Linked DNA regions of Homo sapiens: all the other regions are linked to region 6. Evidence: fine-mapped expression QTL. A gene starts in region 6. Each other region holds a variant in brackets. All regions are shown on one strand. Distances are from middle to middle.

Region 1 (4,065 bases), 51 kb after region 6:
CGTGCGTCCTGCCCACGCTATGCTCACACGTGTCACACGCCTGGCCTTCCACGCACGAGTGCTCCCACATGCTGAGAATTAGCCTGTTCTGTGAAGGGCCACCCGTTCTCGTCCGTCCTCCTGCGGTCGGACACTTGATGTAATCAGGGTTTGGAGACGTTATCAATAAGGCTGATAGACATTCTTTTACAGACACGATTTTTATTTCTCTTGGGTAAACACCCGGGAGTGTGGTCGCTGGGCAGTCGGGAGAGTGGCTGTTCCGTTTTGCACTCCCAGCAGTAGGGAACGAGAGTTCTAGTCACTGTGCGTCCTTCCCAACGTGCAGTTGCCAGCCTGTCTCTTTCTAAAGGCATATTGCTAGTGGGTATGAAATATACCGAATTTCTTTTTATTTTAAGCTCAATTCCTTTACGTGTTTTCTTCCTAGTCCCCAGAGTGGCTTCTGTCCCCGAACATAGGTATGAATGGTGCTGAGCACTGGACCACAGGGTGAGCTCCGGTGGGAGGGTTTTGGCAGGCCATGGAGATGAGTACTTGAATTAGGCCCAGATTGCAGAGTCAGGAATTGCTGGGTACAGCCTGTCTGCATTTTGTTTTGGCTTCAAACTTTACAACATTCATTTTAAGTTCTGAGGCCTTAGGTCCTAAGAAAATGTATTATCTGGAACAAATGCAATTGCCAAAGTCTACAATGACTTTGCTTTGTGCCAGACCTCCTGGAATATGCCCATTCCTGGTTCACAGATGTCTGTCAGGCCTGCCCAGGGACCAGGTCCCATGCTGTGGACTCTGACCCCATGCACGGAGCAGTGGAGGCTGCCTGCTCGGCCTGGCTGGCGTCTGCCCCAGAACCGTATCAGACGCCTGCTGTACATGCAAACACAGCGCCCTTGGCTCTTGGCAGGCCAGTCTCCGCTAATCACAGACAAACCTCTAGTCCAGATTGAGGAACATGTGGTACCACTCTCATCTTCCACACCCAGCACAGACCTCAGTGACTGATTGCGGCTGGTGCTGCTGTGAGCATGGACGCAAGCTCTGCTTCCAACAGCAAACTTCAGAAACCCACTTCCAACAGGGAAGGCTCGCCCCCGACAGGAACACAACCTCAGAAACCCACTTCCAATGGGGAAGGCTCACCCCCAACAGGAAGACAACCTCAGAAACCCACGTCCAATGGGGAAGGCTCATCCCCGACAGGAACACAATCTCAGAAACACACTTCCAATGGGGAAGGCTCGCCCCCGACAGGAACACAACCTCAGAAACCCACTTCCAACGGGGAAGGCTCACCCCCGACAGGAAGACAACCTCAGAAACCCATATGTCCAATAGGGAAGGCTCATCCCCGACAGGAACACAACCTCGGAAACCCACCTCCAACGGGGAAGGCTCACCCCCGACAGGAACACAACCTCAGAAACCCACTTCCAACATGGAAGGCTCACCCCCAACGGGAACACAACTTCAGAAACCCACTTCCAACATGGAAGGCTCACCCCCGACAGGAACACAACCTCAGAAACCCACTTCCAACATGGAAGGCTCACCCCCAACGGGAACACAACTTCAGAAACCCACTTCCAACATGGAAGGCTGACCCCCAATGGGAACACAACCTCAGAAACCCACGTCCAACAGGGAAGGCTCGCCCCCGACAGGAACACATTTCTATCTCCAGGCTGATGAATACTGAGACAAAATGCAGCACAGTCCTCCACACGTCCCTTTTGCTTTGGAGGTGGTGGAGTGACGCCCTTGATAACCAGCCTGTGCTGCCTGAGTGGCCCTTTGAGTTCGGGTCACAGTGTCAGGCACCAGCTCCTTCCACTCAGCTGTGCAGACTTGCAGTGGGTGCGTCTGTGACAAGCATTCTGCCCACCACCTGAAATTGATCAAGTCTTTCCTGCATATTCCAAGTCTTTTCTCTGTTGATGGAAAAACCAAACTCTGTAAAATATTTTAAAGAGGTTTCTTCTGAGCCAGTGAGTGACACAGCCAGACAGACACGGTCCCAGCGAGTCCTGAGAACGTGTGCCTGAGGAGATCGGATTGCAGTTTGGTTTTGACATCTCAGGGAGGCAGGAGTTATAGGCAAAGACATACAGCCATGCATGGCAGGTCCACACTGGCTCGGCCTTTGGAGGTGGGACACCTTGAAGGGGGCTTACAGGATATAGATGGATCCAGAGATTCTTTGAGTTCCTGTTG[G/C]TGAGAGGAGCAAGGCTCTGTCTAAAACTTGGAACGTTTAAGTTAAGATCCTGCTACAGGATCTGTAGCCTACAGGTGCAGCCTCAGGTCCTGCTCAGCCTGCAGGTGGGACCCACCCCTGCCTTGTGCGGCCTCGGGTCCTGTTATAATTCGGTATCCTATTGCCACCAAGAGTCTGCTTTGTCAGTCTTAAGATCTCCGTTTTAACATTACTGCTGGTCAGTTGTGTCTAAACTCCCAAAGGGAGGGAGTATGACGAGGCATGTCTGACCCCCTTCCTGTCAGGGCCTGGAACTCAGCTTTTCAGGTTTCTCTGGGTCCCCTTGACCGAGAAGGGTCATTCAGTCAGTGGAGGGGGGGATTCAGGGTTATGCTTTTAGTTCACACCTCCAAAACAGGAGGCTACCTTTTAAAATGAAGTAATCACCAGTGACGTGAAAATCAGAGTTGACTTGAGAACCAGATGATGGGTGCTTCCAAAAGGCTCAGACCTTGGCCCCCAACCTGCCTCCCATGCTCAGCACTCAAAGACCTTGGCCCCCCCACCTGCTTCCCATGCTCAGCACTCAAAGACCTTGGCCCCCCACCTGCCTCCCATGCTCAGCACTCAAAGACCTTGGCCCCCCACCTGCCTCCCATGCTCAGCACTCAAAGACCTTGGCCCCCCACCTGCTTCCCATGCTCAGCACCCAAAGACCTTGGCCCCCCACCTGCCTCCCATGCTCAGCACTCAAAGACCTTGGCCCCCCACCTGCCTCCCATGCTCAGCACTCAAAGACCTTGGCCCCCCACCTGCCTCCCATGCTCAGCACTCAAAGAGAAGGAGGGCAGGAGGAGCCTGGCCACTCCTGAGCAGCCTGGGAGGCCTTTCTCTAGGAGATGGCCAGGCGTGCACGGTGGGGTGTGGGGGCACCTGCGAGGAGACCCGTGCAGGCCATGCCTGAGACGTGCGGAGGGATGGGGACAGGGCTGCCTGTCAGCCCACCAGGCTGCCAGAGCACCAGGGTTTGTCAAGGGCTTTCTGCCTTCCCTGGGGCTGGACACTCCCTCCAGGCTGCAGCTGAGTCGGGGGCACAGCCACAGTGAGTGCTCAGAATCCCCCTCCTCATGGACAGTGCTGGGCGCTCAGTCTCCTGCAGGAGTGCCCCAGCCTGAACTCATGCAGCAGGGCTGTCCATCAGATTCACCTGACCCCTAGTCATGCCCGAATCCCTGCAGGATGGAGGACCTGTGGGAGACTTCGCTCCAGCTGCAGTAAGTCAAGGTCAGCTAGGGCCACGAGGGCCCCACCGGCCAGTGTCCTGGCCGAGGCTCCCAGACACCAAGGCCGCCCAGGCCTCCAGAGCAGCAGCCAACTGCCCCTCATTCCCCGGCCTCACTCACAAATAGCCTTCACCCAGACAGCCTTCGCCCTGTGCACCGCGGCTGGGGCTGGAGGGGAGGCAATGGCCGTCTCCCGTGTGTGCACTGGACGCCCGGAATCTCAACAGCACTCACACTGGAACTTGAAGGTGCCCCGGGGAAACCCACGGAAGCACAGTGGTGCCTCTGGCTGCCTGGAGCCTACCCCAGTTCCTCCCTGGCAGTGAGAGAAAGCTGCAATCACCCATCAGCAGGCTTTATTACAGAAAAGGAAACGCAAATTGGGCCTCCGCTCCTGCTGGGAAGCATGGGAACATAAGGTGGGAGGAAGATGGAAGGGGGAACAAAGAGAAACACTGCAGACCGGCTGCAACCAGAGGCTGCAGGTGCAGGGCTGAAACTGAATCATCGCCATGCCAGCAGGAGTGGCCTGCCTGGAGTAACCCACCCTTCCAGGGAGCACAGGCTGGGTGCCCTCCCCAGGGCCCA
Region 2 (4,065 bases), 120 kb after region 6:
TCTCCAAGCTGGCGGCTAATAAGGTCCTATGAATGTTGTTAGCTGTTGACTGTGGACCACATAATTTCTCAGAGATTCTGCACCTCTTTGGAGCACTAGCTGGGCGCTGCCTAGAGGAACTTTCTGATGGTGGAAATGTCAACTGATGGTTAGATGTTCAGGGGCACCCCATCCACCAGGCGAGCTCAAAGCAAATGTCCTTCTGGAGTGAGTGCATGGGTCCAGGAAGGCCAGGCGTGTCGTTGTGTAGGGCCATGAGTCCACGAGGAAATGAGGTGCCAGTCCCCCTGCTCCTCACAGGGATGGACCAGGACTCACTTCCGACCAGTTAATTAATGGACTTGAGACTTGTGACCCACCTGAGGACCAAGTCCTCGCAGGACACTGGGTAGAATGGTAAAGACAAGCAGTGGCATGACCTCTAATGCCAGAGTAAGAACGTGTGCCCCATGCCCACCCAGGTCGCTAGGCCTTTACTGCAGCCGAGGCACTGCCTCTGTCTGGTCTTGGGTGCTGAGAGGCCGGGACCTGCTGCGGCCTGTTGGATGCAGCTCATGCTCCCTCCCGAGTCCGTGGCAGAGAGCAGTAGGGGCTCAGGGCAGCAGAAGGCCCAGGGAGAGGAGGGGGTCCTCCCTGTCCAGGTGAGAGCCTTTGACCATACCAAGAGCCGGGGTGCCCAGTTGTCCTTCAGCACTGGGCCTTCCAGCAGGCCAAGGGAGACAGTATCAGAACCTCATCATAGGCTGTTTAAGGCTTAAGTGAGGTTGACAGGTGAAATGCTGAGAACAGTGGCCCCTTGCAAGCGTTTTATGGAGGTAGTGTATTCTCTGTGTGGATGCAGGTGGGGAGAAGTGGAAGGAAGGACGCACGAGAGCCAGCCTGCGACACCTAAGGACAGAAACACCTCCCTCAGCCCAGCCGGCTGCTGACTCCATGCGAAGAGGGACACCAACCCTTACAATCTCACAGTGTCCTGCCCCTGCCCCTGCCCCTGTGAGGTGGGAATCATTATGCTTATTTCACAGACGCAGAAACTCAGAGGGCTTAAGGGTGATTGAAGTTTGCTCCAGGCCTGGACTCGAATCTGTGTCTTTGCTTCCTAGGGCGATGCTCCTTCCATCAAAACCAGAGTGTCCCAGCTCTAGATTCCCCACCCAATCTCCTGTGGCTGTCTCAGCACCTCCGTCGTGAATCCGTGCATCCCTTCAGACGACTGCCTTCCGATGCGGCCCCTGACCTGCCCCCCCTCCCATCACTGAATAGGACTCCTTTTCTCCTGGATTTCCTGTAGGAAGTTTCAAAATGCTCTCCAGGTTTTCTGTGGGTGGATTATCTCTCTGGATCTTTCTAAGTGAGTCCTGTGTTTCACCACAGCTCCCCCCACACAGTTGAGCAGCTATACCGTGGGGAGGCTTGGTCCTCTTGCCCCATTTGTGTGATGTCTATTGTAGTCATGCCAGGGGCCTGACGTCAGAGCTCCACCCTGACATGTGCTCATGCCGGTTTACAAACCCTCCCAGGACCAGGCCCCCATCCCTCTTCCAGGACAGGCTCTGGAGCTCCAGCTATTAACAGAAACATTCCAGCCAGCATCCCCAGCGACCCTCAGCCTCCCACGCCGCTGTGTCTTCATGACCACAGCCTGGCCACCACACAGCTCCCCCTCGAGGACTGTGACCACTTCCAGCCATGGTCTCTTTGGGCCATGCGGGATATATTCCCATTTCCCCATTCAGCTGGGAGATTTTACCAAGGGATTTTTCTCTCCTGGCTCCAATGCCAGCAAGACCATGAACAGCTGTGTCATTTTCACTTTCAAGCCTCAGCTTCTGTACATAAAAGAATACAGTTAATAATGATTTCCTCCTCCTGAGTTGCTATCGAATGAAATGAGGTTATGCACACACATGGCAAGGACCTGCGTCTGGCAGGAACAACATCTCGTTCATCGTCACGAGTGCTTCCCCTTGTGTCTTCCCTCCTGTGTGTGAGATGGGGGCTCCCAGGCCTCCCCAACAAAATACACTTTTCCAGCTTTTAGAGGCCAGCATTCCTAACTCCTTGCAATAAATCCCTATCATAGTACAAATGTAAACACATCACGGTATAACTCAAATCAACTGCCCCTGATTTTGCCATGTTTCAACCTTTTGTTGCCATCGGCCTCCTAAACAATGGCTTTAATGGAAACACAG[G/T]TATGTAAGCTTGGAAGCTGCTCAAACATCTCAGTCATTCAGAAATAAAACACTTGTTGAGCAGCTAGTCTGTGCCAGTTGTATTAGAGTTCTCCATAGAAACAGAACCAATAGGATGTACACAGAGAGAGGGATGAGCAGGGATTTTTCATGTGACTTGGCTCATGTGATTATGGAGGATGAGAAGTCCTGCTGCCATCTACAAGCTGGAGAACCAGGGAAGTTGCTGGTGTACGTCCCAGAGTCCAAAGGCCTGAGAACCCCGAGTTCTGATGTTTGGGGGCAGGAGAAGATGGATGTCTCAGATCCAGAATAAGGAAAGAATTCACCCTTCCTCTGCCTTTTTGTTCTATCTGGGCCCTCAGGCTTCGGGGAGCGTGGATTTTCCCACTCACTCCCCTGATTCAAATGCTGATCTCTTCTGGAAACGCCCTCTCAGGCGCACTTAGAAAGCATGTTTTATCAGCTATCTGGGTTTCCCTCAGCCTAGTCAAGTTGACACCTAAAATTAACCAACCACTAGGCAATGCACTACCTAGGAATACAGAGCCAAGGAGGGCGGGATCTTCCCAGGCCTCAAGGTCTCTCATCTGCTGAGCAGACAGGCATGAGGCAGACTCTCACAAGTAATGAGGTTGGTGGCAAGGACTACAAAAGAGAAAGACCTCTGCCAAATGCAAAGTTGCACTAAGTGCTAAGATAAACCCAAATCTGAACTGCAGAACTGTGGGCTGTGATGTTCACCCCCACCCAAGTGGCTATGTTGCCACATCGGCTGCAAACACACGTGAATTTGGGCTGGGTATCAGGAAATGAAGTCATTCTGGGAATGGAAATTTAAGTTTGTTTAGGGAACTGTGAAAATCTGCATTGGAAAACAGATACTGCGAGAGAACAGGTTCTGCAGACCAGCAAACAGTCCAGACACTGGATTTCTTCCCTGCTCGCTGTCTGGCCGCAGCCGGGGACAGACAGGCAGAGCGGGAGTGTGTCAGAAGGTGTTTTCTAGGGGAAAGAAGGAATAAAAGAAGACCCAGAGGAGATGCAGTGACATTGGGAGGTTCAATAATTTCCCTGCAGTTGAGGGCCCCTGGACCACTGTTTCCCCAGCAGAGACAAGGTGGTGGCTGGCATGGAGGGAGCTTCCTTAGAAGAACCCAGAACCCGTGTATTCCCCTGAGAAGCGTCATGAAACCTCTCAGATCTCTAATCCCTGCACTGCCCTGGAGCATCAAGGCCCAGCGCTGCTGTTGAATATTGTGAATGTGGTTTTTCCTGACTCACCATAGAGTCAATAATTTCCAGTTTAAACGAATTTGTTAAATATCCTTCCAGATTATGCCATTATCCAAGAAAGTCTTAGCTGGCTAAACTGGAGCAAGCAATTCTTTTAGGAATTTGGAGAGCAAGTTTATTGTGAGAATCTTGCAGCTGTGACAGACAAATGTCCACAGAGAGAAGAGACGCCTCTGAGAGGTAGTGAGCCTGATAACTGAGCACCGGGAGGGCTGCAGAGCCGGACGGCTCAGCCTCGGGATCCAGCCCAGCCTCTCCTTCCCTACAGTGAGCTCCTGCCAGACCGCAATACCCTCCAGCATTCCTGACATGAATCTGACCTGCGGGGAGGATCCGGGACAGACCCAGCGCAGTGGAGCATCTCGGATGCCATGAGTTTCCCGGTAAGCAGCACCCAGGGGCAGCACCAGGGGGAGCAGCTTCTCAAGCTCCCAAGGGAGCATGTGGGTCGACGAACAGCAGCCTCCTCTGACTTCTTCCTGGTGATCTGGGGAAGGAGGAGGCAGCGTCGGCGCTTGGCCGCATTGATATATGACACCTTGTCCCTCCTTTTCATGGCCCCCTTTTCTCCAAA
Region 3 (4,065 bases), 140 kb after region 6:
CACTGCAGGAAGGGACAAAGCTTAAAGCACCAATTCGCATTTTATCCTGAAGACCTGAGAGTCTTTCAAACTTATAGAGGTTTTTTTAGTTAAAGAAGAGGAGAAAATGTAAAGAAAAAGGAAAGGATAGGAATAAAATAGACCTTGAAAACCCAATGGAAACAAACCAAATTTGGCTTCTGATAATATAATTTCATAATGCTTCATTGAAATATCATGTACTTACAGAAAAGTGCTCAGTAGATTTTGAAAAACCAAGCTCACCCTGTGGCCATTACCTGGACACTGGAGCAGGGTGTGAGCTGCCCGCAGTGCCTCTGTGGTCCCTCCAGCGTGGCCTCCTCCAGGGAAAACACTGTCCTTACCCCAGCAGCACAGACTAGTTTCTTCGTGGAATTTCTTTTTCCCAAGGACCACAAAGGAAGCAGGGAGGCAGGGAATGGGGGGCAGTTTCCCTTCTTAAAATAATGTGACTGGAGGGAAAGTGGATACAGGCGGGAACCCTCAGCAAGCTCCAAGGAGCCCCACCGCCATTCAGTATCCGTCACGGAGCAGCCACAGTGAGGCCAAAGTTGCAGCTCACATTAAGAACAATTAACAGTTTTACACCACTTTTCCACATTCTTTTTAAAAAATTACGTTCTTGCATTATTTTCCCCATATGGATTTTTAAACATGAGAGTGCCTAAGTCGATTGGACGGAAGTTCAATCTGGTCTTGATTACCTCTGACTTCGTGAGTTAATGAGCGCTAAGTAACTCACCTTTCCTTTAATCTGGAAGCAGTGGCCCTGCCTGTGGGGTGGGGGACACAGGCTGAGAGTGGACCACAGGCTCCGAATCACCTATTCTGGTGCATGTGTCCTACTCTCAGGCCACAGATCCACAGGGTCAGACTGAGCTGCGGGGAGTGTGGCCCCACCCTGTTTCCCTTAAAGCAGGTTACAGAGGATTGACCTAGTGGGGTCACAGAGAGCACCGTGAGCCTGAGACCCAGGCTCTGGTCCTACCTTATCACGAACTCACTGTGGGCCTCAGCCTGGCCAGACCTCTCTCAGGGTCTCTGTTTCTGCATCTGTATAATGAGGCCCCATCTGTAGTGTTAGATGGAAACTGAGTAAGGACTAGAGGGGTTGGGGGTGATTCACCAACTCTTTACCCCTCAACAGAGCAGAAGGACAGCTTCCAGAGTGTGCTTCCAGAGGGCCCTGGGCGTGTTGAGTCCTAAGAGGAAGGAACCCCCATCATCATGGTACATGCTGTGTAACCCCACAGCCTGGCTCACTGTGTCCACTGGAACCCACGTCCTTGGGGTCAGAAACCTGGAAACAGCCACTCTGTTCACAGAGAAGCAACCTTTCAGTGTTTTCCTTTCCCCTTACCACAGGGATGGCCGTGTTAGAATTACACTCCTCTACACCAGCCAGGTGAGTTACTGCAGGCTTATGACTTCATAGGTCACCTGGCATGCATTTGTAACAAAATCTTTGATGTGATAAAGCAACAGACTCCATTGCAAAAAACATTAGCAATCTCTCCTCACTAAGTCACAACTTTGATAAAGTGTTTTCTATTCAAAAAACTTAGTGCAATTATGGTGCAGAGCTGAGATCTCAGCACAATTTCATTTACAATCAACCTGGCATCTCCAATGCACTAATTGAAGCATTATCACTATTGTCTTCCGTATGAAATATGCGCAAAGTATATTTCTTTCCCTTTATCCCCCCAGTAAATAGCATATTCTGGACATGTAGCATTTCAATGAATGTGGCAGTAGGCCACGGGGACCACTGACCCTCACACCTGAGAGGACACTGAGGCCCTTGGAGGTGGAGAGACTGCCCAATGCACACAGCTCATGTCAGTGCCTCTGTGATGGCTTTCCCCCCAGGTGACTGTCACCCCAACATTTTACTGACACACACAGAGTTCCTGGCTCTGTCCTCCCACCAGCAAACTTTGTGCATAGCCAGAGTCTCCTCCCGCCTGCTGCACTTGGGGTTTAT[A/G]GAGAGCACTTAGGCCTGCAGGAGCTAAGATTGCACAACTGCACTCCAGGCTGGGGAACAGAGTGAAACTTCATTAAAAAAAAAATCCACAGCTAAGTTGATGCAAAAGCAGCATCTAAATCATAGACTAGAAAAAGCAGCCACCACATGTGACAGTGAAGCTTCAGAAACTGCCTTTGGGAGGTAGGAGCAAGGCAAAGATATGCCCTTTCTATGTACCCTTTCTATGCAACCTCGGGTAGAGTTACCGGCTTGTGCAATAATGCAAGAAAATGAACTAAATGTGGAACAATGGGTCAGGAATAAAAGGAAACCATCATTCTTTATTGACCCTATAAAAATCTACATTTTAAAAGGTCATAACAAATAAGAGAGTTCAACTGGACACAAGACTAGTAAACAAAACTATCAGCAGTACCCAATTCATAATTATAAAAAGCAATTTCATTTGACATCAACAAAAGTTATCAGTTACCTAGGAATACATCAACTAAGACAAGGGTAATAACTTTATGAAAAAATAAAGATATCAGTGAAGAATATTTTTAAAGATGTCTATAAATGGGGAGGTGTGGTGAGACCTGCATGGTAAAGCGATGAAGTCTCCCCAAGTGAGGTGATGAATTTGATGCAGTTCCCACCAAGCACACACCCATGGGGACACGTTCACCTGCATCTGTTTACGTGTTTTTTAAAACTTGACTGGCTGACTCCAAAAACAATACAGGACAATAATAACCAAGATACTTTTAAAGGAGAAAAAGTAAGTCGAGGATACATTACACCAGATATAAGCACACCATATAAATCCATTGCAATTACAGCCACATGATATCTTGGTAGAAGAGAAAAATAGACCAAAGGAAAAGAGTACAGAGCACCAAAGAAGACCCTCTTCTGTGTTGAAACTTAGTCTATTAGAAAACAAATAAAGTGCCCAATCGTTTGGGCAATTGGCTCTTCATTTTGAAAAAAGATACCTTTAGATCTATACCTCAAGACATACACAAAGGTTATTTTCAGGTGGACTGAGAAACTTTATAAATATAGCAAGACTCTTTAGATGAAAATATAAGAAAATATATTTTGAATACATTTTGTGGATTTCGCAAAATACATAGAAAAATCACATGATCAAAAGATTAATAAAATTGACTAAAATTTAATAATAAATATATCTATAATAATTTTTTAAAAAATAATAATAAAATCTAAACTTTCCCTTCCACAAATGATATGGAGACTAGGATAAGGTATTTGTAAAACATCTTGTGAACTAAAGATTTCTATTGAGAGTACTTAAAGGTTTTTAAGTGGTGCTGGCTCCCCTCTTAGGGGACTCTTAGTTCAAACAGGTTTCCTCTCATGGCTGAAGTGTTGAGTGCCTTTTCCACTCCCGTTCTCTCACAAGTGTGCAGAGGCAACTGACGTGTGATGTCACTGCAGACTGAATACAGAATTCCACATGGGAAACTTGTTTCCCAGGAGCCAGGCAGCAGGAGCATTCACACATCTAAACAATGCTACTCCTGTCACCAGTTTCTAAAGAAAATATAGTTATTTTCGTAACATGTTATGTTATGAACATAACATAATCCTTGATGTTCATTAGCATAATGGATTCATTATGAGTTTTCACTAATTGGTTACTTAATGTGATGGTTACTATTGTCAACTTGATTGGATTGAAAGATGCAGAGTATTGTTCCTGGGTGCGTCCGTGAGAGTGTTGCCAAGGGAGATTCACATTTGAGTCAGTGGACCTGGGAGAGGCAGACCCACCCTCAATCTGGGTGGGCATCATCTCATCAGTTGCCAGTGTGGCTGGGATAAAAGCAGGCAGAGAAATGCGGAAGGACGAGACTGGCTGAGTCTTCCGGCCTTCATCTTTCTCCCACGCTGGATGCCTCCTGCCCTTGAATACCGGACTCCAAGTTCTTCAGTTTTGGACTCTTGGATTTACACCAGTGGTTTGCCAGGGGCTCTCGGGCCTTTGGCCCCAGACTGAAGGCTGCACTGTCGGCTTCCCTACTTTTGAGGTTTTGGGACTCAGACTG
Region 4 (4,065 bases), 110 kb after region 6:
CTTGTCCTGCCAGTGGCCATGGCCCTGGCAGGCTCCTCTGTTTTCCTGTCCATGAGCCCCTGCAAGAGGCCTTCTCTGTTCCAGTCCCTCGGCATCCCGCTCTCCTGGCTTCTCTGGGTGAGGAGTGAGGAAGGGTCACAGAGGGTCCTGCCTGCCCGTCAGTACCTCAGGGCCTGCTTGGAGGTGTGTGGGGCCCTTGTCCTCGTCCTTGGGTCTGTGACTCCAGATCTGAGGCCTGTTGGCCGGCCCTGCACCAGAGCTGCCTGCCTCGCTCCTGTGAGGAGGGACCCAGCGGCCCCCAGACAGGGGCAGAGGACAAGGTCGTCCTAATGCTGGGAGACGAAAGCCCCTTGGCGCTGTCCTGCGCCCGCAAGCCCTGCCACCCCAGTTTCCCTCTCGCTCTGCAGACGATGCCCTTGGCCTCATGCCCCAGTGCGTGTGGTGGAAGAGACGCACAGCGCAGCCTTGGGAGCCTGCCGGAGGCCCCCTGAAGGCTCAGCCTGCTGCTCTGACCCCCACACCAGCTGGAGTCCAAGTTTCCAGGAAGACTTCATCTCCCTTGCCCCTCGTCTGGTTCTCGGAGAGCTGGATGGGGCTTTCGCTCAGCAGCACGGGCACAGCTCCACTTCCAAAATGTGAGGGGCAGGGGCCCAGGTGTTGGATGCCTTCAGAGCCCTGGAGCCCCGGGAGGGGCTCTCAAGCCCACCTGCCTGAGTCGGGCATCAGGCAGGGAGAGTGCTGGGGCCTCCGCCCCTGCTGGCCCAGTGATGAAAACCAAGCATGAAGGGTGGGTGTTCATTGGTTACTTGCTGTGTGTGGCCTCTAAACATGCACCATTCCCTTTAATTTTCACAGGCTTCATGGGATGGTATTAGTGTTGCCACCGGACAGGCTGGCCCTGTGGAAGGAACATGGGCGTGGGCAGTTCCTGGCCTCTGGTCTTGACTCCTGACTCGGTTCCACCCCCTTGGGATGCTTGGCCCAATTCGTGGCTCAGAGCCCGGCTCTATCTATTTAATGGGAGCTGCACTTGAGGAGGGCCAGGGAATCATCTGGGCCAGCAGAGGCAGAGGCCCCCGCACGCTCCCTGCCCGATGCCCGACTCAGGCAGGTGGTGAAGGCATCCGAGACCTGAGCCCCTGCCCCTCACACTTTGAAAGTGGAGCTGCGCCCCTGTTGCTGAGCAGAAGCCCCACGCATGCAGGGGTGGGTTGGGAGGGGCCCCTGCCAGAGCCTCTCTCTACGCCGGCCTGGCTGTGGCATGTTCTCTCCAGATTTCCTCCAGGAGACGGCCCTGGTCCCTTGCCACAATAGAAATTATGCCCCATAATTTTCTGTTGTAAAACTTGATCTTTTTCTGCAAGCAAGTCATTAAAACTTCAGCTCTTGCACGCTCCATGTCCCATGAATGCCCAGGCCTTAGCACAGCTTCCGCAGTGCCAGAAGTTCCGTCAATCATGTTGAGTGATTGTAAATCACTCAATCAGTGGATGTAAATATGTGTACAAGAAGAAAGGAAGGAGTGGGGACACGGCCCCTTCCCCACAAGCCTCTCTCAAAAACCCGAACCTAACAGAATACAGGGGTGGAAACATGAACCTTTTCTCCATCTTCTGACCCTTAAGGACAGAGAGAAGCAGCAGGTTGTGATGTCAGTAGGAACTTGCAGACCAGGACAGCTGAGCGCTCACCGACGGCTCGCAGGACACCCTCAGTCACCGCCGCGCCCATCAGAAGAAACAGCAGGAACCAGACATTGCTCTGCCTGCAGAAATCACATCTGAAAATCAACTCTGCTTTGCTCCA[A/G]GCGACGGAGCTTTTTCATAAGTATAAAAAACAGCTAACTGGATAAAAACACCTTTCCTGGGGACCTGAGTGCTGCAATTCAAAGGGGCTGGCAGTGTGAGGCTGGAGAAGGGCTCCTGCAAGGCTCTTAGCTGGGCAGGCCGAGGGAGGCCCCTCTCGGTGAGCACGAAATCAGGGATGCCCCGGGCCGGTTAGGGATGGGGCCTGGACACCGTGAGATTTCCAGCAGGCTACACCTGGGGCTGCAGCCGGGGCAGCCCCCACAGAATACTCAGAGGCAGCGGGAAGTGCGGGCTGGTGACGAGAGTGGGAACACTGCCCCACACGCAGCCGCCTCGGTGCCACCTGGCGGACAAGCCGCCCCTGTCCCCCGCTTGGCCTCTCCACATGGCACATTTGCCCCTGGCAGTGCCCAGCCCCAGGTCCGGGTGACTGGGGACAAAGAATACCGATGGAAAAACAAGCTAACGAGCTCCTCCTAGGGAAGAGGCCCGCGCCAGGGAGGAGGCGGCCGTCTGGGCGGAGCTTCCCGATAGCCAGGCCCGGGCGGTGCCAGGACACTCACCTCAGGTCTCACCTGCAGAGCATCCACGAGTCACTCACGCTGGGCCAGGCACAGGCTGTGCACACAGAGGGCAGATCCAGACCACACGAGAGCATAGGTGCCCACGGGTGTGCAGGGATTGTGGGGGGAAAGGAGTGTGTGCTTGTGTGCCTGTAGGCGTGGGTGAGTGTAGGTGTGCCTGTGGGAGGGCGAGACCATGAGTGTGAGGGTGCGCGTGTGCCTGTGGGAGGGTGTGTGGGTGTGGGTGTGCGTGGGAGGGTGTGATTCTCTGTGGCTATGCCTGATTGTGTGTACATGTGGGTGCACATGCTGCACGTCTGTGCTGCAGGAACCCATAGGGCCAACCTTAGGTCCTAATTCTGGGCTGACCGTGTGCCGTCCCCCACGGGCCCCTGCATCCTCAGTTCCTCATCTGTGCTGTGGGCAGAAGCTGGGCTGCCCCACACTCCAACATCCCTAGAAGGGAAGGGATGGGGGCAGGGCTGGCTGCAGGGACAGCCTCGCCCACAGCAGACACGGAGGCCGCAGGGTCATGCCCTGGATGGATGTCACCCAGGAAAGGTTTTGCCTCCTCCAGTCTTTTAAATCAGGCTCCAGGGGCTACGATTACAGCCCTGGGCTTTCTCCCACCCCTCAGCCTCCCTCCTTAGTAGCTCCACAGCAGCTCCCTCCCGAGAGCACACCACCCCTGCACGCTCGGAGCTGCATCCTCCAGCCCCTCATTCCCCGCTCATCTACTCCGACCCAGCTAGGGATCCGGCTTCCCTCTTAGGGCCATTTCTCCTTTGCCAGCATTTTCTCTTTTTCCCTTCTGTCATGCTCTGCTACGTCCTCATGCAAAATTAAGCCCAAAACGGTTTCAGTTACTCCCAACCCTGAGACGAGTTTTAAAATAGTGACAGGATGAACATTGCACCTCCCATGTGAGGGCTGTAAGGGACTGGCAGTTCCAAATGCATCTTCCACTCGCAAAGTTGCTAACACAAATCCCATGGGGAAAAGGGAACTGCTGACCTTTCAGCGTGCAGATCTTCCCTTTGATGGGTTTGCTTGCCTTCAGAAGAGCCCAGGAAAGCTCTGCACAGAGGCCTGTGTGTTTCCGCCCCTCCTGTAGGAAATGAACGGGTGCGTCTTCTCCGTTGCCTTTATTGATCAAGGCCAAAATCACAAGTATAAATTACCACGGTGGGAAACGAGCTGCTCTGATGAGAGGCAGGTGGAGGAGGCTGCCTCGTCAATAATGCATCTGATCAGAAAGAAGGGGCTGATCAGAGGGAGGCCGGGCTCTTTGAAGGTTCTGGTTTTCCCATGGAAAGCTCCACCAGCTCTCTGCCTGCCGAGTTCCTGCTCTTGCCCAGACGGGAAGTGCGAGTAGCTTTCATATCAGACCTGCCGCTCACCGCACCGAACTGATTCCATGGACACTGACATTTGTCTCTGCAGCAGGGATGGCCGCCCTGGCCCAGGCTCCTGTCGCTGTGGATGCCTCTGTCTGGCACAGACTTTCGGTGTTAGAGCCCCAGGTGAAGGTCTGAAGCAAGAAGGAAAAGGACACAGAATCCCATCCCTTCTGAACCTGCGGGGTGCAGCTGCCCTGAGATCCTGTAGCATTTCACTGGGAGCCGACAGGGATGGTTTGCGCGCTGCCGGGATGCGTGAACAGGGGAGTCCATGAGGCCCCAGGGCTGACTCAG
Region 5 (4,065 bases), 150 kb after region 6:
TGAAAGCTTCAGAGAAGTTTTGCAATAATCAATCATTTTTACTCAGGGTTTCCTGAAATTTCCTGATTATAGAAATCAATTTTTAAAATATTTTTTGTAGAATGATACTAACATTCCTCAAAATACTGGTGATCCAATAAACGTGGATCATGGCTACTGTGGATTCAGTGTCAGAGACAAGGAAACCAGGGCTTCTGAGGCAGAATTCACTAGGTTCACCTTGGGAGTCGACTGCAGAGTGAAATGAACCAGAGGGCACCCTTGCCCACTCTTACGTCTGGGCCTTTATGTCCCCACCTTTTCTCTGTTTTTACTGGTGTCTGCACACTGTATTTGTGTGGCGTGTCAAGGCACAAATGTACAGGGAATGTCAAATCAGAAAAGTTCACTCTCTGCCTTGGCAGCTCTCATCTGCAGGAGTGTGTGTGCACGGGGGTAGTGGTGCAGCCAGTGAGCACAGCACATTCAGCTGGCAGCACCCCGAGATGAGGATGAAGTGACTGGGAAGGTCACAGGAGAGGAGGGCTGCAGGTCCCGGGTTCTTCATGGAGGACAAGGTGTTTGTATGGGGTCCTGGAGGAGAGGCACGAGGACCTCTGCTTTATCCTAGCTTGCAGCAGGCTAGAAACACCCAACAGATAACTCCCCAAAAGGGAATAACATGGGACAACTTTGCCCCTTTGACCCTACAAATAGGTTTTATTTCCAGTACGATGAGCAAGCACGCTGAACTGTCTTGCAGTTGCCCAATGGGTTCTTCCCACCCACTGTACAGACAAAACCAATTCACCGAGACTGTGGTACTGCACTAAAGAAACAGTTTAATTGATGCAGCTAGCCACGTGGGAGAAGGAGCTGCTACTCAAATCAGTCTCCCAGAAGAACGGGAGGTTTGGGTTTTTCAAGGATTGTTTGGTGGGCAGAGGACCAGGGAGTGGGTGCGGTTGATTGTTTAGGGATGCAGTCATAGGGTGTAGAAAACGATCCTGTCACGGAGTCTGCCTCTGGGTGGGGAGGTGGGAGTGCATAGGACCAGTTGAGTCATGAGCCATGGGTCTGGGTAGGGTCAGTCGGTTGGCAGAATGCAAAAATCTGGAAAACAGCTGAAAAAACCAAACTCAGGCTCTACAATAGTGTTGTTATCTACAGAAGCAATTGGAGAAGTCACAAATTGTGTGACTTCTAGCCATATGACTTCTGAACAATAAGGAATTACGGAAACTATGTCTACATTTTAGCAGAGTTCGGGCTCCTCCCGAAATCCTAATCACGTGGCCTTTCATTCGTTTTTGGTCCTCAAGGAAGGAGGGCTTTAGTTTTAGAGAGGGACTAGTATTGTTTTATAACTAAATTTCTCCCCGGATTAGTTTAGCCTGTGCCCAAGCATGAGCAGGACAGCCTGCCTGTGAGGCTAGAGGTAAGGTGGAGTCAGTCATGCGTGACCTCCCTCGCTGTCATAAGCTTTGCAAAGGTGGTTGCAGTCTTTCTCTGGTCAGAACACATGGTGCAGCCATCTGAGATCTTTGCAAATGGACAGTAGCAAGAGAAGTGGAGAAAGAGGCCAGAGTGTGGTGAGTTCCACCTCACTGAAGGCCAGCAAGGGGCGTGGATTGGCAGGATAGTATCCAGTGTGGAACACAGGAGGAGCACCAGTGAAGGGAAACCAGGTCGGGAGCATCAGCCGTGGGAAATCATAGAGGGAATCCTTG[T/C]TCTCCTGCTGCTTCCTGGGGTCTGCAGTCTCCCTGTCCATCAGACGCTGGCCCTCCTCGTGGCTTGCTGACTGTGCTTTATGAAATTCATGCTCACATTTCCCCATATTTTCTGAAGCAGTGGTGAGTCTGGTTCTTGACTGGTTTTGTTTCCAGACGGGTCCCTTCTGTCTTTTTACTCCCCACTTCCAGTGGGCACGTGGGTTTCCCAGGGCCTCAGGCCTTCTGTCTGCTCTAGGGGAAGCTGGGGACGTCTGGACTGTCCTCATAGAAGCGGAGACGTTTTGCTGCACCTTAGGGAATGGGGAGCAGTGGGGAGTCTTATGGAATCCCTGGTCTCTACTCCACCCCCGAGCTCCTGCTGAGAGGCCTGCTGTGCCTGTGCCCTCCCTGGGGGTGGCACAGTCCAGGATCTCCCCACCTGGCATCCTCTGAGGTGGATGCTCCTGCCTCTGAGACAGGCAGCCCTCTGCTTGCTGGCTGCTCCCCAGCATCTGTTTCTGACTCACTGCGCAAAACGGACAGGAAAGTTGAGGGTCCCTGCCCAGTGTCTGTCTCCAGGCACAGAGTCTCAGCGCCAGCTCTCAAAACTCTGTCTGCTCACCTGGGCAGCTCCAGGAGGCGGGGGAGGAGTCAGGAGCACAGCAGCCCCTTGAAACTTCCCAGGATGGCTGGTTTGGGGGTTTATCACATTATTTTTCTCCCTCTGGTTTTAGCCACTGTAGGCCAGTTTGTTCACAGATTTTTACCAACTTTGGCTCATTTCATTACCTTATCAGAGGTGGGAATTCTGAGGTCCCTAAGCCAGAGGCTTTCAGGGATGTGGCTCCCTCTGCCGCCCTGGCAGGGAGGGCGCAGGAGCCCCAGGTGGAGCCTCTGACCTAGATCCTTTGGCTCTAGAGCCTGGAGCCTTACCACAAGGCTGCCTGTGGGTTTGGCGTCGGCCTGGAGCCCAGGCTGCTGGTTATCTGGAGACAGCCTCCCTGTAAGATTTCTCTGAGACAAGAAACAATTATGCAAATTATCCTAATTCTGTTTTAAAGAATAGAGAGATTGATTGCAGAGACAAACCATTTAGGCAGGCAATGTAGAAGGTGTTTCCATGGCTAATCTGCCTTCAAAGGAGAGGGATTTTGTTTGTAAACTTCAGACCCAGAAAATTGATTGTTCTGTCAACTTTAGATAATTATCTGTCCTCCCTGAGGCCCTAAGCTTAGCAGAAATGTTCTTTCTCTGAATCAGTACTCAGCTTTGGATCTCTGTTGGGTTCCCTGTAGAGTGCTAAATCAGATTCCCCCAAAGCAGTGGATCAGGAGCCTTCCTCCAGCCACAGTGCCCATCCTGCCTGCAGAAGAATGGACAGAGGGATGGGAGGGCTGCAGAGCTGGCACTGTGTCCCTGGAGGGGCTGGTGGGGACTCACTGTTCGGGGGACAGGGGAGGCAGAGTCCACACTCAACTGCTGCGTGGAGATGGGCATGAAGGGCAGGCAGGTCTGGCCTTGGCCTTGCGGTTTGTTTCCATTAAAGACCTTCAAGACCAGAAAGGACCAATAGGGCTGGACTATGCAGGGAGAGAAGAGGTTCTAGGGAACTGAGTTCCGAAGTCTTCGTCTTCTCACTGTGCAATGGGGTTCGCCTATAAAGCAGGCTGCTTGTCCTCGGGAGAGCTCATTGTGGAGAAACATCACTGGACAGAGCCCCTCCTTATCTGCATCAGACTCCTCTGGTCTCCCCGGTTGCCTTTTTCTCTGCCCCTAAGGGCACCTGTTCCTGGAGAGGCTCTCAGGACAGTATCCTGGACACCCCCTGCCTGGACACCCCTTGCCTGGCACCCCTCCTCTCCACAATGTCATCAGAGAGCTCCACCTGCCCTTCTAGCCCCCTGGTCCAGCACTGCTGGTCATGAGGTTTGGGCCCTGTGACCTGCCCAGATCCAAGCTGTGGGGAAAGTTTGCTGAGACCAGTTTGGGGAACAGAGGGGCCTTGTTGTACCATTTGTTCTGGGCACAGGGGACCTCCTGCATCGTCTATCTCCTCCATGAGATGCTAGTTTCAGGGATTCCTTGGGGACACTGGAGAGCAGGGCTGGCTCAGGCAGGGGCCTGACCATAGTCCAGACAGTGCAGACCCTACCTGAGGTGCCACATGGGCCCTCATCAGTCTTCTCTTCACACAGTGGAGTCACTCCTGTGCCTCCCCTGTCTGCACTCCATTGAGCCGGGAAAGGCCTGCAGTAGCCAATGCCCACATTTGAGTTTCAAATGTGAATATACCCAGGGATTGCAATTTACCAAAAGACGAAGGAAAAGGCCTCTCCCAGTACTTGGTCAACATTATTCTGTGGTATTTTTCAGA
Region 6 (4,065 bases):
CCAAGGTGCCCACCCAGAGCACCCTCGCCAAGTGTCTGAAAGCCCAGCGGCAGCCTGGCTCCTTCCCTCACCAACTCATTCATTCATTGCCTGACCCCATTTCCCAAGCTGGTGACCACGGCTGGTCAGGACTCGCTTCTAAAGGGCGCGGGGTCTGGCTTCCTCACCAGCAGCCACAGGGCACAGCTCCCGGACCAGCCGGCAGCCCCTCCCAAGGAGGAGGTTATTCTGGAGACAAAGGCAGCGCCCTGAGGTAGGCGGCTGCCTCCTCCCGCACCACACTCCCTGCCCGGCCTCTTCCATGGGGGGCGGCCCTCTGGGGCCCCTGAACCTCTCTACACCATGCCTTGGGCTCACGGCTCCCTTGGGGGTGGGCACCTGCCAGCCCCCACTCACCAGTCCGGGTTCTCCGCCGCTTTGGGGCTGAGCCTGGTGTCGCTGTTCACATTGAACAGGACGTCCTCCTCCGTGAGCGGCGGAACCGCCACCCGGTAAAGCGGGTGCTCGAACAGCCTGGCCAGGAGGGAGGCGTCTCCGCCGGGGCCGGGGGGCGACTCGGACCGACGCGGGCCGGGGTCTCGCAGCAGCGGCCGGTGCGCGGGGTCGTGGGGTCTTAGGGCGCCGGGATCCCGCCCCCGCAAGGCGCGCTCGGCCGGCTCGGCCGCGGGCGGCAGTTTCTCCAGCGAGTGGGACGAGAGGTTGGAGGAGGGGTCGGAGCTGAAGTCCTGCAGGATGCGGAGCGTGTGCTTGTTGGGCCAGCCCGCGTCGCCGGCGGCGGAGGAGGCGGCCGGGGGCTCCCCGGGGCGGCCCCGAACCTGGGCCCAGCCGGGCGCGGCCACCTCGGCGGCGGGCTGCGCGCACGAACAGCCGGGCTCCCCCGAGGGCCGCGCGCCGCGTCGCTCCAGCCTGGGCAGCAGGTCCAGGGCGATGTGCAGCGCGCAGGCCACCAGGAACACCATCAGGATGAGCACGCGGAACCGGCGCACCAGCATCATCTTCATGGCCGCGCGGGCCGGCCCGGGCCTGGAGCGCGTTCTGCCCGCGCGCCCCTCTAGCTGCAGCTGGGCACGAGCGCGGCGCCGCCTCGCGGGTCAAGGTCCATCGGTGCCGGGCGGCTACCAGCTCCGGGGCTGTCCCCGGGCCCGGGCCGCGTGCAGGGCGCCCGCCGCCGGAGCGCTGGGTCCCCGCGCCATCTCGGGCCCGTCCCCGCTCGGCCTCTCCGGAGCGGCCGCGCCCTCAGCCGGGGAGCCCAGGGGTCCTGGTCCGCGGAGCCGGGCGCGCGGGGGGCGGCTGGGGCCGCAGCAGGGGGAGGCTCGGCGCTCGCAGCCGCCGGCGCGGGGCTCATCGGGCGTGTGGGTCCATCCCGGCCGGGGCGCGACGGGCCTGGGCGGTGGCGGCGGCCGCAGGCGTCCCGATCCTCAGCGCGCTCCTCTCCAGGCGCCGGGCGGGCGGGCGGGGAAGGGGCGGCTCCTCCGGGCCGGGCTCTGCTCTCACGCCGCGCCCGGGAGACCGGGGCTGGGGGGAAGGGGGGGGCGAAGGGCGGAAGGGGTGGGCGCGGGGAGCGGCCGGCGGGGTCCCGGGCAGGTGCAGCGGCCGCCCCGAGCGCAGCTCCCGCCTGGCCGAGCCTCTCGGCGCCCCGCGTCCCGGGCGGGCAGATATCGAGCGCCGCGGAGCCGCCCCCCGCGTCAGCGCCCACAGATTGGCGGAGCCGCCGCCCCACGAGTCACGGCTGGGCCCGGGCCGGCTGCGCTCCCGCTCTCCTTCCTCCTCCCCTCGGCCGCGCCCCGCGACGCCTCTGAGCTCCGGGCCCGCTAAGGAGAGGGCTCCTCCTGCCCGCGGTTTGCAGAGGGAAGCGGCGGAGACCGGGAGGGCGCGCTCGGTTCTGGCCAGGCCAGCAGCTGCGGCCGAGTGGGGGGCTCCGGCCTGGCCGCTTCCTGGGACCCCCTCCCGCCCGGGGCCGCCGCCGCCAGCTGCAGCCTCTCGGCTCCTCCCCAGAGGAGCGCGGGGCCGGGGCCCAGGCCAAGTCCCTCCCCGGAGCCGCGGGGCGTCTGCGCCGCCGGATGAGCTCCCCGCCGGGCGGCGACCCCGTGCCCCACGCCCGTCTCGGCAAGGAGGAGGCGGAGGCGGCCCCGCGAGAGAGGCCCAAGGAGCGACTGGGCCTGGACCCAGGGGACGCCAGGGCAGCGGAGCTCCCGGCACCGGTCCCGTCCCCCCCCCCCCGCCCACCCGCGGGACGCGCCCGCCTTAACCCTCCAGGCGCCGGGCCCGCTGGGGGCGCTGAGAGGGGCTGGTGTGCCGGGGGCGCCTTCCTGCTTGGGGCCGACGGGGGTGTGTGAGTGCAGGCGTGTGCGTGTGTGTGCGCATGTGTGTGTGTGGATGTGCGTGTGCGTGTGTATGCCTGTGTGTGTTTGTGTGTGCGTCTGTGTGCATGTGTGTGTGCACATGCATGTGTGTTCACGTGAGTGCATCTCATCTGTCACCCACAACCAGGGGAGCGGTGCTTGTACAACCAGCTGGTGGCTTCTGCAACCAGCAGCTTCTGGCCGTGCAGCTCCCTGTAGGGAATATGAGTTAATCTGGATGTCAGCCTAAGATGTAGTCAGGGAGGTAAGTGTGTGGGAGGAGGCCACATCCCCTGTGCCTCAAGCCGGCTGCTTCCACAGTGCCCAGACTGCCTGGGCCAGCAGCCTCGCCAGCAAGCCCAGGCGGGTGGGCCGGGAGCAGGGCCTGGGCCCCCCCTCTTACTTTCACCGGCTGGCTGTGTTACCAGGGCCCTCTCCGCCCTCTCTGAGCCTCAGTTTCCTCTGATGTGAATTAAGGGCGTTGAGCCCATTGTTCCTGAGGAATCACTCATCTCTGAGCCTGGCCCATTGCCTGGCATTCCGTGGGCACCCACTAGATACTTATAAGGGGAGAAGTTGTTCCAGTCCGGCTGGCCAGTGGAATCCATGCGTCTTGGGCCATTTGAAGTGAGTGAAGGGCTGGGTGCGGCCCACCTGGAGCTGGACTGGAGGCTGTGTTGGGTGGGGCGGTGTGACCTGGAGGTGGGCTGCCCCCTCAGGAGACAGCTTCACCCCTGTGAGTGGACCTCATCCTTCCTTCCTTCCACTCACATGGACAGCACATCTGTGTGTAGACAGGGTCACTGAGAGAGGCCAAGGAGGGTGAGGAGGAAGATCCCGGGTGTGGGGGGAGTCCTGGGGGAGCAGACAGCAGGGACAGAAGCCTGTGGCAGGAAGGAAGGTCTTGGCCTGTGTTCTCCCAGCAAGGGTCCCCTTGGACTTGGAGTTCTATAGGCTCCTGGCCCCCCCATCTCTCCCGTGGTCTACAGGACCTCGACGCAGAGCTGTGGCTAGTGTCTTGGGGCAGACATGGGGCTGAGCAGACCCCATGGAACACTATTATCCGGTGTGGGGGGCCTCATGGAGGTTCCCTGGGCACTTACTTTCACTTGCCTCCTGCCCCCAACTCCTCTCCCCTCCCATCCTCACCCCCAGAGTGGTTTTTGGGAGCCCGGCAGCTATCTGGACCCGTGTGCACCCCTGGACGCCTCCCTCCCTCGCAGAGGGTCCTGGTTCATCTCGTCTGTTGCCTCTTAGAACAGTGGCCTCTACCTCGCCAGGTCCTTCAGAAGCGCCCCCCTCCCTGCCCCGCCACTGTTTTCCCAACAGCACCCGCCGTGGTCTGAGGACACTTTCTTCTGCTCCTGTTTATTGTTTATCTCCCCCAAGCACAAGCAGTCGAGTTAAGACAGGAGCCTCGTTCAAAGTTCCGCCCGGGGCCAGGCACAGCGCAGGCTCTCAGAGGAGGGCCCAGGAGTCCACAGGCTGCGGCGGCGCGAGACAAAAGTCGGAAGACAGGACCCCGCTGAGGAGTGAGGAGACAGCGGCCAACCCTCCGCCAGACCCTTCCGCCTGGTGCCTTTACTGGGCTCTGAGGAGGAATTTGGTGGTTCAGTCGGCCCATCCGTGGACACCATAAAAACAAAGAGAAAACAGACACACACAGATGCACACATAGATACACACAGATACACACAGACACGGATATATAGACACACACAGA
Region 7 (4,053 bases), 45 kb after region 6:
TATATTTTAGTGAATGATATTAATATATGTTCCAAAGTTGTATGGGATTTCTAAAATTCTAATTTTTCTGAGTATATGCTACCGATCATAATTATGGTTATGTTGTTGTTATAACCAAATTTCTTTGTCAATTGTGTCTTTTTGAGTATTTAAAGTCATTTCCGCAGTTAATTGCTTCATGCTGATGTAGTTTCTGAAAACTTCACAAGCACACAAAAATCCTAGAACATGGTGTCTTTTAGGAGGTTCGTGAACGGATGGGGAGGACCCTGAAAAGCACTGTGGAATACAGGTTTCTAGTAACTTCAAAATCACATCATTTGGACTGGGTAAGAATTGCTGAAACTTTAATGAAAAGACTGACTGGCTTATAAAACTGCTAACCCAAATAGAATAAAAATTAATTGAATACCGAGGAAATGCTTCACCAGGTTTGCATACTTAATCAGCCTATACTGAAATTGTTTAGATATACAATTTGAATGAACTCCATGGTCTAAGTCAAATTACCTGTGATAACCCATCAGTTATCCATGCTATGTGCCCAATTTGGAGAAACAACTGGCACCCAAGAGGACATAAGTCCGATGTTAAGCATGGACTCATGGAGAACCAAGATGGCTGCCTTGTCCTTCGTGAGTCCTTAAAGCTTTTGTTATTAAAAGTTATGCATTCCATGACTCATCCTGGAAAAGATAAAATGATCCAAATTAAATATGTTGGTGTGGTGACTTACAGATTGTTAAAATAGTTTATAAACAATGTTTAGTTTGTCAAACCCATACTCCTGGGAAGTCAATCAAAGCTTCATGTACATTTGGCTACCTGATGAGGCATTTAAACATTTATAAAGGGGTTTCATTCAGTTGTCATTTTCAATGTATGTGTTCTGGTTGTACTAAAGCTTTCCCATGCAGGAGGGCTAATGTTATAACAGTAGATTACTATGTATCAGTGTATTTTCACCAGGTAAAGAGCTTTTTATGGTTCACTGAGGACAATCAACCCCTTCACAATCTAGAACCCAAAGATGGGATCTTCTGAGAACATCAGAGAAACGCTGCCCTTGGCATCATCACTGCAACAAAACATCAGGATCTTGAACCTTGGGGTCATAATCTCACAACTGAGCAGGGTCACTCTTGGAACTCTACATCCATTGAAACCCTTAAGGTAAAGCTAATCAGGGAAGTTTCTCCCCAGAAGAAGATGGCATCCTTGATGTGAGCAGCTCTTTCTGAAGATCATGGATCAAGACTTCTTACTATCATGAGACTCTTATCTTTGAATGTTTTTCCGTTGCTTCCGCCTCTGTGAACAACAGAAGTGAGAAGGGGGTCTGTTTTGTGCACTTATGGGGTATACTTTTATTTGTGAAGGGCTTTGCAGCCAGCTTTATACATGGATAATCTTATAACTTGATAGATAAAGATGAAGGCCCAGTGTATCATAGGTGAGAAACTTCAATGGTACATATGGTGCCTCATAATCATTCAGAAGCAGAACATTGGTTCACTCCTCTTAACCCACAGCATGGGTTAAAGAGACCATTGCCAAGAGGCCTTCCCTCTTCTAGAAGGGCATCATTTGTTAGGTCCTTTTTCCATGGTTTGGAATTAAAAAGGCAATGACTAGAAACATATCCCTCATGGTAGACTCTGTAGCAGATTCTACTGTAAAGGCTACACAACAGATGTTAAATTCTCTTGTGAAAGTTATGCTAAAAAATAGAATTGGCTAAACAGGAAAGTACCTGTGCAGATGCTGGCACTTAAGGCCTATGGAGAAAACATCAGGTGTTATAGAGAGTCTGTTGTAGGGAATTAACGAAAAGACCACTGAGTTAAGTCAAAGAATGGTCTATTTGAGTTTAGGTGGTCTGGTTTATGGGGACCCTGGCTAAGGAGCATACTCCAAATTCTTGGTGTTAACCCTCTCAGTAGTCATAAGAATAGTCTCCCTGGTGCACTGTATTCTCTCAAAGGTTTTAAATGTTTGCATGAAGCCATCTTTAGAACGTCAGATGGTCTCTCTTCAACTGGAATGACAAGAGCTGAAAGAAATGTGTGACCACGAGGACACCGAAACCGATGAGTGACATGCTGAGACTGGAAATCCAAAATGATAGTAACGGAGAGTGGCGCTAACATCCTAAGTTTTGGTCACACTCTTGCCTAAGTGACAACCTGACAAAGGGGGAATTTTTTAAACAAAATGATGGGAGGCCATTGTTTTGGACTGAGCACTAGGTCCCAACAGACCAAACCGAACCAAAATGGCATCATTCGTGCTAAATGTGACATAATCGAATTAAGACTTTAAGGAAACACATGGGTCCTAGAATAGACCAGGTTTTGTTTTTCTCTTGCAAACAGGACTTTCCAGCATAAGGTGGTATCCTCAACTCAGTCCTTGTTCCTACCTTTGCAAAACTCACTGTTCTGCTTCCTAGTGGGTTTCAAGACC[A/C]ATGGTGACAGTGACATCAATAACTCAAGTTTCGATCAATCTCTCAAAACTGATAAAATGACCAAAAAGGGGGAATTGTTAAAGCGAACTAAATATGGCCTGAGAAGGACTCCGTACTTCTGTATTGGAGTCCCTGTGAACAAACTGAGCCTAACTTAATAGGTAGACAAGATTGAAAACCTAAATTAGGAGTATGTACCTGTCACAATTGCTGAGTCTCGGCCAGTCCCAGCAGCCGTACTTCAATCACTCATACACTGCTGAATGTTCAAACTGTGTGTAAATAAGGCAAATGCCAACCTGTAACTAATCCAGGTGTTTCTCTACCTCACTTCCCTTTTTTTGTCTATAAATCTTCCACCACGTGGCTGCACTGGAGTCTCTCTGAATCTGCTGTAATTCTGGGGGCTGCCCGATGTGCAAATCATTCATTGCTCAATTAAACTCCTTTAAATTTAATTCAGCTGAAGTTTTCTTTTAACAAGAGTGAGATAAGAATCTGTGTTCTTATCCCCCAGAATGGACAAATCAGTAGCGTTCCTTGTCATTCTTTTGTGGCTGGTTTCACGTAAATATTTTGTGTGTATGATAATAGAATTTGATTTTAATGAATATACTTTAAAAGCAACTTTTTTTTTATTCTTCCTCACCATCGAAGATGGAGAAAAATAAGAAGGGCTGTCTTGCGGTTCCATTTCTTTTGTGGATAGTAAGAAGCGCTGTCTTCTGGTTCCGTTTTTTTTTTCTGGATAGTAAGGATGTTTATCTTACTCTGTCTTCATTGTCCTCAAACCTCAAGTAGTCACTAATACCCTGGCTATGACAGCTTTTATCGTAGTGTTAAATGGCAGATTTATTTACTTGGCAAACATTGTCAAGTCTCAGAAAAATTACCCCATGGTCTTGCCTTCTTCCCTCGTGAATTGCCTTCCACTGATGGAGAGGATTTGATCTGTTCCCTGCTCATCAATTTTTCTAGCTTCTTTGGGATGTCCGCTCTGCATATCTACTAAGGAATTAAGAAATAATGGCTTCAGCAAGAAACAAGGCAGGAAAGTGCAGTGACATGAGGACCATACAGGGAAGGAGCTGTCCCCAAAGGTGAGAATGGCCCTGGACAAGGGTTCTTGCTGTGACTTCACTCAGACCAGACCACCTTGACCTTTTCATCACCGTGCCTCAGCGAAGTCAGTCGTTGATTCTCTGATCGGTTACTGAGATCATCATGAAATCTCCCTCGTACGAGAGTTGCAGAACTCTGCAGTGTCAATCATAGTGTTTGGGAGAGAGGACTTTCTACCTCCATCCTTTTTCTGAACCTAAATGGAATGAAAATTAGAACTGTTGCTTATTCTTTGAGGTAATTTCAAATTCCCTTATCCAAACCAGTGTTACAAAAGGACTCCAGTTTGCCCCCCAAATCGGTCTATTAAGAATGTAATGATGAATTTTCATCCAAATCCCACAATATGAGCTTTTCTAAAATAACTCTAGAAACAAATATGACAATATTCCAAAATTCCTGCCCTCAGACCTTATTTTGTATTAGAGTTATCTGTGTATCCATTTTGTATCCCCTGAAGCACG

Evidence for each region. PIP is the estimated chance that this variant, and not a neighbour inherited with it, causes the effect. A credible set is the group of variants that fine-mapping cannot tell apart.
Region 1: its variant is the best candidate, but not a certain one, in a credible set for the expression of FAM20C in monocytes (TOPMed, PIP 0.65).
Region 2: its variant is the best candidate, but not a certain one, in a credible set for the expression of FAM20C in lung (TOPMed, PIP 0.79).
Region 3: its variant is the best candidate, but not a certain one, in a credible set for the expression of FAM20C in whole blood (TOPMed, PIP 0.87).
Region 4: its variant is the best candidate, but not a certain one, in a credible set for the expression of FAM20C in whole blood (TOPMed, PIP 0.69).
Region 5: its variant is the best candidate, but not a certain one, in a credible set for the expression of FAM20C in whole blood (TOPMed, PIP 0.75).
Region 7: its variant is the best candidate, but not a certain one, in a credible set for the expression of FAM20C in whole blood (GTEx, PIP 0.50).

Annotation. Positions count from the first base shown.
Region 1 is chr7:139,212-143,276 of GRCh38, reverse strand. No RefSeq gene overlaps it. Among named protein-coding and RNA genes, the nearest start is that of LINC03015, 8.2 kb to the left of the region's middle. RefSeq lists an enhancer at 3,420-4,065. The variant G/C (reference allele first, on the strand shown) is at 2,215.
Region 2 is chr7:68,610-72,674 of GRCh38, reverse strand. It overlaps LOC105375113 (a long non-coding RNA gene), which reads left to right. Exons shown (of 3, transcript NR_187847.1): 3 at 1,104-2,258. Among named protein-coding and RNA genes, the nearest start is that of FAM157D, 35 kb to the right of the region's middle. The variant G/T (reference allele first, on the strand shown) is at 2,196.
Region 3 is chr7:51,664-55,728 of GRCh38, reverse strand. No RefSeq gene overlaps it. Among named protein-coding and RNA genes, the nearest start is that of FAM157D, 18 kb to the right of the region's middle. The variant A/G (reference allele first, on the strand shown) is at 2,009.
Region 4 is chr7:80,615-84,679 of GRCh38, reverse strand. All of the region lies in intron 1 of LOC105375113 (a long non-coding RNA gene), which reads left to right. LOC101929756 (a long non-coding RNA gene) reads right to left here. Exons shown (of 3, transcript NR_187733.1): 2 at 3,386-4,065; 3 at 1,331-1,765. Among named protein-coding and RNA genes, the nearest start is that of FAM157D, 47 kb to the right of the region's middle. RefSeq lists enhancers at 1-313, 1,607-2,377, 2,378-3,150. The variant A/G (reference allele first, on the strand shown) is at 1,807.
Region 5 is chr7:39,066-43,130 of GRCh38, reverse strand. No RefSeq gene overlaps it. Among named protein-coding and RNA genes, the nearest start is that of FAM157D, 5.6 kb to the right of the region's middle. RefSeq lists an enhancer at 1,690-2,633. The variant T/C (reference allele first, on the strand shown) is at 1,710.
Region 6 is chr7:190,136-194,200 of GRCh38, reverse strand. FAM20C (FAM20C golgi associated secretory pathway kinase) reads right to left here and starts at 1,630. Exons shown (of 10, transcript NM_020223.4): 1 at 397-1,630. The coding sequence starts at 1,001.
Region 7 is chr7:144,808-148,860 of GRCh38, reverse strand. It overlaps LINC03015 (long intergenic non-protein coding RNA 3015), which reads left to right. Exons shown (of 3, transcript NR_134325.1): 2 at 243-329; 3 at 4,050-4,053. Among named protein-coding and RNA genes, the nearest start is that of LINC03015, 2.6 kb to the left of the region's middle. The variant A/C (reference allele first, on the strand shown) is at 2,467.